Linked DNA regions of Homo sapiens. The protein of the gene in region 1 purifies or fractionates together with the protein of each later gene. This does not show direct contact. Each region holds a gene or a part of one and is shown in the gene's direction. Other genes may lie near its edges.

The links.
Region 2: the proteins of COX4I2 (region 1) and SACM1L purify together in Homo sapiens (affinity purification with mass spectrometry; one large-scale study listed by BioGRID and IntAct). This does not show direct contact.
Region 3: the proteins of COX4I2 (region 1) and PIGA purify together in Homo sapiens (affinity purification with mass spectrometry; one large-scale study listed by BioGRID and IntAct). This does not show direct contact.

Annotation. Positions count from the first base shown.
Region 1 is NC_000020.11:31,643,189-31,645,644, forward strand, and holds the end of COX4I2 (cytochrome c oxidase subunit 4 isoform 2, mitochondrial), read left to right. Parts: intron 1-215; coding exon 216-347; intron 348-1,579; coding exon 1,580-1,716; 3' UTR 1,717-1,818; downstream 1,819-2,456. UniProt on the Homo sapiens protein: Component of the cytochrome c oxidase, the last enzyme in the mitochondrial electron transport chain which drives oxidative phosphorylation.
Region 2 is NC_000003.12:45,709,814-45,713,471, forward strand, and holds part of SACM1L (phosphatidylinositol-3-phosphatase SAC1), read left to right. Parts: intron 1-3,323; coding exon 3,324-3,383; intron 3,384-3,658.
Region 3 is NC_000023.11:15,325,428-15,329,085, reverse strand, and holds part of PIGA (phosphatidylinositol N-acetylglucosaminyltransferase subunit A), read left to right. Parts: exon of another isoform or gene 1-772; coding exon of another isoform or gene 773-865; intron 866-3,039; coding exon 3,040-3,172; intron 3,173-3,658. UniProt on the Homo sapiens protein: Catalytic subunit of the glycosylphosphatidylinositol-N-acetylglucosaminyltransferase (GPI-GnT) complex that catalyzes the transfer of N-acetylglucosamine from UDP-N-acetylglucosamine to phosphatidylinositol and participates in the first step of GPI biosynthesis.

The DNA of each region.
Region 1 (2,456 bases):
GCATTTGCCATTGTCTCCCCCTCTAAACTCCACAAGGGCAGGGATTTTCATCTGGCTCATTCACTGCTGTCACCTGTTCCTGGTCATGCTGTGCATATAGTACGTGCTCAGTAAGAATTTGCTGAATGAACAGCATCTGCTGCAGGGAGGGGGAAGCCGGGATCACTTAGAGTGGACGCACCTGAGGCCCCTTCCCCACACCCAACTGCCTCCAGTGTACCGGCTCCAGTTCAATGAGACCTTTGCGGAGATGAACCGTCGCTCCAATGAGTGGAAGACAGTGATGGGTTGTGTCTTCTTCTTCATTGGATTCGCAGCTCTGGTGATTTGGTGGCAGCGGGTCTACGGTGAGTGGCAACACCTCATCTGGCTGCAGTCCTGGGCCATGCCCTTGTGGTCACGGCCACCAGACAGTTTCTTAAAGGAACCATGCTGGCACTCATCTGAAGAGCTGAAAATTTCTGAAGAGGTGTAGGGTGAAGGACAGAGCATGGCTGTCTAGGTTTGAATGCAGGAACTTTACCTCTCTGGGCCTCAGTTTCGTCATCTCTAAAATGGGAATAGTAATGTTCCATCTCAGGGTACTTAAGAGGATTTTAATGAGAGAGGGCTGTAGGCCAGTGTTTGGCTCATAGTCATGAATGGTGTTGTAACTGATTGTTGTGTATGAACTGTGTGTTTTTCAGTGTATATATATACTGAACTTCTGCCTCCCCAGTTCAAATGATTCCCCTGCCTCAGCCTCCCGAGTAGCTGGGACTACAAGAGTGTGCCACCACGCCCGGCTAATTTTTGTATTTTTAGTAGAGACAGGGTTTCGCCATGTTGGCCAGGCTGGTCTCAAACTCCTGACCTCAAGTGATCCGCCTGCCTCGTCCTCCCAAAGTGCTGGGATTACAGGCATGAGCCACTGTGCCCGGTGGCCTGTCCCCATATTTTTAAAGTGAACACTCTTACCTACTTCCTACTTTCAACCCTCTTAGAAAGTAAAAGGAATTATTTCATCCTGGACCCTGCCCAGCAAGTGGGAACAAACTCAGTAATTATATAATTATAGTAGGTAACATGTATCAGGTGCTTAATATTTGTCTAACATTGTGCCAACAGCTTTGGAAATACTCAGTCCCCACAATCCTAGTGGATAGGACCTCTTTTGACAGGTAAGGAAACTGAGGCTCAGAGAGATGAAGTGACTTGTTGAAGGTCGCAGGGCAAGGGAGTGGTAGAGCCAGGATTTGGATTCAGGCAGTCTTCAAATCAGTGATCTTATTACCACAGACCACAGAGGTAGGTGAGGTGACTGAGTTGTGAAGGACCTTGGCCCAGCTCCCACAGTCCTTGGGGTCTAAGGCAAAGCTGGGGTCAGAACCCAGAGGTGCCTGGGACGATGCTCTAGGAGAAAGTCTGGGGTGCGGGGCTAGACAGGGTGGAGTGAGCTCCTCAGTGCAAGATACTTCAACCCTGGAGTATCTTGTACCGTCAGCCTTGCGAGTGGCTGGGAGGCTACAGGGTGGCTGGAGACCCTGGCTGGTGTAGGAAGACTGGCAGGATCCTGATCCACCCCATGTACTCCCTGCAGTATTTCCTCCAAAGCCGATCACCTTGACGGACGAGCGGAAAGCCCAGCAGCTGCAGCGCATGCTGGACATGAAGGTGAATCCTGTGCAGGGCCTGGCCTCCCGCTGGGACTATGAGAAGAAGCAGTGGAAGAAGTGACTTGCATCCCCAGCTGTCTCCCTGAGGCTCCGCCCTGGCTGGGAGCCTCTGGCGGCCCCTCCCCTCCCCTGCCCTTAACCCCAGTAAAGCTCCAAAAAAAAATTTATTCTCTTCTGCCTCTCACCACCACTTCAGACTTTACTTGGCACCTAAAATTAGGCATTTTAACAGGTGAGGGGCAAGAAGGGCTCAGAACTCATCTAGTCAATGAGGGCTTCCTGGAGGAGTGGGGGCTACAGCCAAGGCTTAGGTGGGATTAGGAAAGGCAAGAAGAAGGGAAGGCATTCGGGGTGGAGCAAGTGGCTTAATCAAAGGTGAGAACACTCTTTTATTCAGCTAATTAACAAATACTTGGCCGGGTGCGATGGCTCACTCCTGTAACCCCAGCACTTTGGGAGGCCAAGGAGGGCGGATCACTTGAGGTCAGGAGTTCAAGACCAGCCTGGCCAACATGGTGAAAGCCCCATCTCTACTAAAAATACAAAAAATTAGCTGGGCTACTTTTACACCCAGCTAATTTTTGTATTTTTTTTTTTTTTTTTTGAGACGGAGTCTCGCTCTGTCGCCCAGGCTGGAGTGCAGTGGCACGATCTTGGCTTACTGCAAGCTCCGCCTCCCGGGTTCATACCATTCTCCTGCCTCAGCCTCCCACGTAGCTGGGACTACAGGCGCCTGCCACCACGCCCGGCTACTTTTTTGTATTTTTAGTAGAGACGGGGTTTCACCGTGTTAGCCAGGAT
Region 2 (3,658 bases), on another chromosome or scaffold:
TGTGAGTCCTTGAATCTGTGTATATATACAGCCAGAATTGAGAATCACTGGTGTAGATATTCAGAAATCTTTGTATAAACACACATGTAAGTTATTAGAGGAAAATCTTTCAGAATTTGTATTTCTGCATAAGTATTACCAGGCTACCAAGTGCTAACTCTCAGATGTCAAATCTTCAAACTAGCATTGCATTCATTTGTAATTTCTTAACTCTCAGTGTTCGGTAGTGTAGCAGTTACATTAGCAGTGTAATTAGGCTTATAAAATTCATATTCTAACAGTTGATATTTCTTCTGTAGTGATGCTTATTTATAATTTTTATAACTAAAAATGTAACAAAAGTCACTAGAACTTGGAAAATATCCTTTTAAGGTTTTTTTTATTTTGCTTTTTTTTTTTTTCTTTGAGACAGAGTCTCACTCTGTCACCTAGGCTGTAGTGCAGTGGTGCGATCTCAGCTCACTGCAACCTCTGCCTCCTGGGTTCAAGCAATTCTCATGTCTCAGCCTTGTAGGTAGCTGCAATTACAGGCGTGTGCTAACACGCTTGGCTAGTTTTTAGTAGAGATGGGGTTTCGCCATGTTGCCCAGGCTGGCCTTGAACTCCTGGCCTCAAGTGATCCACCCACCTCATCCTCCCAAAGTGCTGGGATTACAGGCGTGAGCCACTGTGCCTGCCCAGTCTGCCTTTTTTTTTTTTTTTTTTAATATACAGTGAATATATCTTTAAAATTAGGTTTCATATGATCTCAACTTAAAGTTTCTTTTGTTCAGGAACCTGGATGATTGCTACCTGAATTTTTTTTTGACACACCTTAGAAGTGTTTAATGAGAAGACAGAATTTAAAAGGTCGCTCCATCTTACTTATTAGGTTGGACAATGTGAAGTCGCCAGTAATTGACCATTTTTGACCAATAAAAATGGTTATTTCATGTGGTTCAACCTAAATTAATATTTTAGTTGACTGGCTTTTTTGGGTGAGATTTTCAACTCTAATTTGGTAAAATTGTATGTAGGCTTAGATGGAAGTTTAGGTGCAGGCTAAGCATTCAAGAAACTTGGCTTTTAACTACAAAGAGACTTGCTTTTAAAAGCAGTTGCTACATTCTCCATTTGTTTATGAAACATCTCTACAACGTCAGCCATGTACCAGGAACTATACTAGCCCCTGGGGACCCAGAATGAAGCTGTGGACCCTGTCTTGTGGGAGCCTACAGTCTGCTGGGGAAGTGGTAGTCAAAGAATGGTTGCTATAATGGTGATATGTACCAAAGTGAGGTGGGATCCTGAAGGAATGAGGGTCTTTGCCTGAGGTTGTCAGGGACAACTTTATAAAGTAAGGTATCTACAGAGGACAGTAACTTTACACAGAAAGGTAACTTTTGAGCTGAGACTTGATGAAGATTTGTTGGTCAGGTGACAGTGGGCCGGGGGGTTCCAGGCAGAGGTGGTGGCAGAGGCTAAGCTGCAGAAAAAGCCATCTCATCTGTTGGGATGAGATGGGAATGTTTTGTCAGCTAAACAGAAAGTTAGCCAAGTGTAGTGGTTCATGCCTGTAATCCCAACACTTTAGGTGGCCGAGGCAGAAGGATTGCTTGAGTCCATGAGTTCAGGACCAGCCTGGGCAACATAGGGAGACCACAGCTCTACAAAAAAATTTAAAAATTAATCAGGTGTGGCGGCACGCACCTGCAATCCCAGCTACTCGGGAGGCTGAGGTGGGAGGTTCACTTGAGATAGAAGCCACAGTGTGCTGTCATCACGCCACTGCACTCCAGCCAAGGCAACAGCAAGACGGTCTAAAAAAAAAAAGTTAATGTTAACATAGGGAATCATAAAAGTGATAAATGGAACATATATACCCTAAATATTTTAACTTAAAACCTAAAAGTTTTACATTGGTCAATGTTTTTATGTACGGCCATAGGATTTTCTTTGTTTTTGGTTCCTTGATTCTGAATTGTCTTCCCTGTGTAAATTACATCCATAGGGCTTTCCCATTTGGGCCACTTTAAAGACTTTGACACTTACAGAGAAATCTGTGTGCAGAATCCTGTACATTTTTACTATGTTCTTTTATATTTTTTTAGTTGCCACTCCCACTCCAAATTCAACAGCAGTTTTGTTTTAGCAACTTGCCTCTTATCAAGTTACATTCCAAATCATTTAACTTTATAGAAACAGCAGTGTGTTTTTCATCTTATTTCATTGGTTTATAAAATAGTTAAACTATATAATGATGAAATAATAATAAGTATGACTGGTACAAATTCAGGAACACACACTTGAATCTCAGGAAGTGCGATTCAGCTGGTTGTGGTCAAGTGCAAAAGCCATTCCCTGTGACTTTTAGAGTCGGCGGTGCTGGTGGTTCAGTTGGTATGCTTCATAAATAGAATTGATTAATCTACTGAGTAGAGTCAGTTATTTTGTTTGTTTTTTCTTTTTTGAGACAGAGTCTTGCTCTGTCACCTATCCTGGAGTGCAGTGGCACGATCTTGGCTCATTGCAGCCTCCACCTCCCAGGTTCCAGTGATTCTTGTGCCTTAGCCTCCCCAAGTAACTGGGACTACAGACACGTGCTACCACGTCTGACTAATTTTTGCATCTTTAGTAGAGACATGTCGGCCAGGCTGGTCTCGAACTCCTAAGTCTCAAGTGATCCGCCTGCCTTGGCCTCTCAAAGTGCTGGGATTATAGGCATGAGCCACCACGTCTGGCCCTAAGTAGAGTTGATTAAATATAGATTGTTGAGGGAGCCTCTTCTGTATTTATGAAAGTTGGAGTGGCCAGAGATGAGATCAGAGAGTTAATTAGGGGCTGCCAGATCCTAGGACTGATTAGGCCATGCAGAGATTTGGTTCTTTAGATGACAGAGTCATTGAAGAATTTTGAGCAGATAGGAGACAGGACATGTTAGAGAACTCCTGCTGGTAGCATTGTGGAAAAATGAGTGGCGAGGGCTAATGCCTAAACTGGAGGCAAGGGAAGGTGTGTTAGTTAGGCTGGAGTCAGATGTTGGTAAAGATAGTGGGAGTAGAAATGTAAAAAATATGGATTTTGAAGGAGATTTAGTACTTGACAATTAAATGTAAGGGAAAGAAATACCGTAAAACTCCTCCCAGGTTTCTGTCTGGCCTGAGACAATGAGACAGAAATGCCCACAGGAGGTACAGATTTGCGGGGGAGATGTATTTTGTTTGAGGCCTGTCAAAGAAACTGGCTTCTAGCCATCAGAAAGAGACATTGATTGGTGTAGTTTTCTTTCTGTAGAAAGTAAGCTTGGCAGGAGATATTTTATTAAATTTTAAAACTTCTCTCAGGCAGATCAGCGGTTTGTATGGAATGGTCATCTTCTAAGAGAACTTTCTGCACAGCCAGAGGTAATGTACACGAAATAAAATCTGCTTAATTGTTACAGTCCAAGCTTTAATTCAATGCATGCTATAAAGTGACTTCCTAATCACCAAGAATTTCGAGAAACAATTCTAATTTAACTGTTTATAACTTACAAACTTGGATCAGGTCTACCCTGTCACATCATTCTAGGTTGAAGAAGCCTAACTATTTTACTCTGATCTTCTATAGAAGCCTTAAATAAAAATACATTGCTTTGTCTAACTAAGAGAGATACAGGGGATCTTGGTACATGGATAAT
Region 3 (3,658 bases), on another chromosome or scaffold:
GAGAATCTTGATTGACCCAGCAGTCCATTTAAGTGGAGGTTGGCAAGGAAACTTGGCCTGAACTTCATTTTCTGGTTTGAAGGCAATGACATGCTTTCATTCTTTAATCAGGAACATGTGAACCGACTGGCATTCTGTATTCTGAATTCCTCCTGGGACATTAGTGATGTGTTTTTTTGTAACTTAGGAATTGTACCTAATTTATTTTTTAACCAAATAGCATATCTTCTTGAGATGGCTAGCTGAGAAAGAGTATGACACAAGTGTGATCAAGGATCAGCAAAATTAACTACCCATGCAAAGATTAAACCTGTTACCTTTACTTCCCTAATGTGGTATTTTAACTAGCTGAGCTAACCACCAATGGAGTGATGGTATGGCCTTTCCTGTACTCAATTCAGTAATTGAACAGTTATTTATCGAACCCTCTCCAGATGCCAGGCACCCTGCAGAAAGTAACATTCTGAAAAGGAACAGCCATGCCTGTAGCCCAAAAGTGAGTAGTTGTATTAATGGTCCATTCCTTATTAACAAATTAATTTCCTCAGGAGTTTATTGGACCAGATATCAAAGTCCCACTGGAATGTCTTAAGTGAGAGAGAGGATAAATCAAAGTTTTCCTTATCCAGGCTTTTTGGATGTCTTTTTCCTGAGCCTCCTCTTCCAAGCCTGTTTTGCTCTCAGTCAGGATTTACCAGCACTCTGCATGTGTAGGCACGCTCACCTGCTTCCTTCTGTAGTGGTAATGACAACCTACATTTGTATTCTGCAGTTGATAAAGCCTGTTCGTGGTACAATACCTCATTTGACCCTCCCAACAACTGTAGGGTAGATGTTATCTACATGAAATTGAGTCTCAGAGAGGGTAAGTAACTCACCCAGGTTACACAGTAAGTAACAGAGATGACACACGAGTTCAGCTTTTCTGGAGCTAAGTTCTCCTCTTCCTCCACCCATGCCCAGCCACTCATATCCTAGGTGTAGATCAGAAGGTTCTTAAAAATATTGTTAGACTGAGCTTTAAAAGCAGTTTGGATCAGAGATTTTCATTGTCTGTTTTGTGTTCACATGGCAGTCGAAAGTCTCTAGGTTCCATTGCATTATACCCTTCTTAGAGGCTCCAGAATAAATTTTTTTATAGTGGTGGGGAAAAGCCCTTATTCTTAGAATAAGAATATAGATCATTGGTAATAGTAATCAGTTCCATTTCTTATGAGATACTTGTCAGGATTAAATGACATAATGAATTTAAAGTATATTGCCTGTCATAGCAAGCACTCTGTTACTGTTAGCTATTATCATTTATGACTATTGCTCTATGTTGTTTTTTGTTTGTTTGAAGAATGGGCTCTTAACCTTGTACGAGAAAGAAAAGGGTGAGGAAGAAAATGGATTGAAGGAATTGTAGGAGACTAAATGTTAAAAGTCATTAAACTACCTTCTGGTTTATCTAGAAATCCAATTGAGTGATTTGTTAGTAGACATGAAACAAAGATAGCTATGATTTTAATGAGAAGCCTTCATATTCAGAAAAGCTGCGTGGGAATTTTTGATACATACAATAACAGTTTGAAAGTACTAGCAGAGTTTACTTAATGAATTCTACTTTGTATTATTTAATAAAAATGACCCTATAATATATATGTCATTTCTCCTATTTTATATCTGATATAAAATATCATCTATTTTATAACTGATCTGCCTATTTGGGGTGGAAGATTAAGAAATACAATTCTTATGTGTGTGTGCATTTTTAAAATTAATAAACTTAGCTCTAGGTGGATTATTTTATATTTACTTTTACTTTTTTTTTGTTTTTTTTTTTTTGAGACGGAGTCTCGCTCTGTCTCCCAGGCTGGAGTGCAGTGGCGCAATCTCGGCTCACTGCAAACTCCGCCTCCCGGGTTCACGCCATTCTCCTGCCTCAGCCTCCGGAGTAGCTGGGACTACAGGCGCCCGCCACTACGCCCGGCTAATTTTTTGTATTTTTAGTAGAGACGGGGTTTCACCATGTTAGCCAGGATGGTCTCAATTTCCTGACCTTGTGATCCGCCTGCCTTGGCCTCCCGAAATGCTGGGATTACTGGGATTACAGGCGTGAGCCACCGCGCCCTGCCTACTCTTACTTTTGAATATGTACGTTTTGTAATTGTTAATGAACTAGATTCTTAAATAGTGTTGACATTGTTGGGACTTTGGATAGCCACTCACTTTTTCAGACTAATAGGGCATAATTTACTTTATTGTTTTCTATTACCTGAGATTGTGTTTATATATTATAAGAAAATCATTTTGGAGAAAAAAGGAGCCAAGATGCATCCTTTTGTTCTATGGACTGTAGTGATCTAACAGTTGATGCCCTGCTGCCTTCATTTACCCTCATTCCAGGAAAGTGGGCTATAGCTGGTTTGAACTTAAATTTTGCGATAATGTAGTGTTCACTGCAAAATTCTCTGTACCAGCCACATTTTAAACAAAGTGGAGGCAGCAGTTAGATTTCGTTGCTTAGCCTTTTCCTGTGGCAGTAAGTGGGATCACAGACTGATAGAATTTTATAGCTGAAAGAGACTTTAGGTACATAGGTATCTTTATTTTATAGATCTTGAAACTTCCCCACGATCAATGGGCTTGCTGGTTAAAAAAGCTGGGAAAAGACCCAGATCTCCAATCAGCTGCCTGCTCTGGAGAAAACGAACTCAAACCTTAGCCACCTTAAATATACCTTTTTTAGAAGTACGCAATGTATAAACACAAGTGAATAACTTAAAGAATAGTCTGTTGAGATGAAACAGAATAGTCCATATTTTGGGTGTGTGGAAGGTAATGCATGTCAAGGTCTACGTCTTCAAGAATTGTAACTCTTGGGGGACCACTGCCAGTTTGCAAACAATTCCACTCCTGGAAAAGGTTTAAGAGAGTTTCTCTCCTTTATGGAGTGCATAGCTAATACTTTTCAAAATAAGTGGATTCTCAGTCGTTCTGGTGAATTTTTTTAAGTTTAAATATTAATATCTCCAACATTCAACTTTATATTTTCAGGGATCGATTTGCTTAGTGGTATAATACCTGAACTCTGTCAGAAATATCCAGATTTAAATTTCATAATTGGAGGAGAGGGACCAAAGAGAATCATTTTGGAAGAAGTTCGGGAAAGATACCAGCTGCATGACAGGTATTGATGAATTTCATGTTGTCTTGAGGGAGAAGATGTCAATTATCTCTATTTGGTTTTAACTGCATGCGTACCTTAGGTGTGTTGCTTCTCCTGCATGTAATTGATATACATATAATTGATATAAATCTAATGCAAGGACTGTTTTCAAAATTTTTATATAAATAGGAAACCTAGTTAATTCACTATTTTTTCCATTAGCCCAATATTATTTGACTTTGGGGGGCCATTGTTGGAGGCACCATGAAAGGCACAAAAAACAGCTGCTTTAACTGGAAGCGTTTGCAGATTTCCAGGCCATACTGTGTAGTGATTTAAGTAATAGGGCTCAAATCATGTAAATTGCTCTGCACATACAGATTTGGACAAGTCTCTTCCTCAGTAACTTACACAACACAAGGCTTGTACGTGTAAAGCATCAATTTTAATAAAAAGGCCATTTTCCTGTTTACAAATGGCACTTTAACATTAAATTATCAAAGTTTA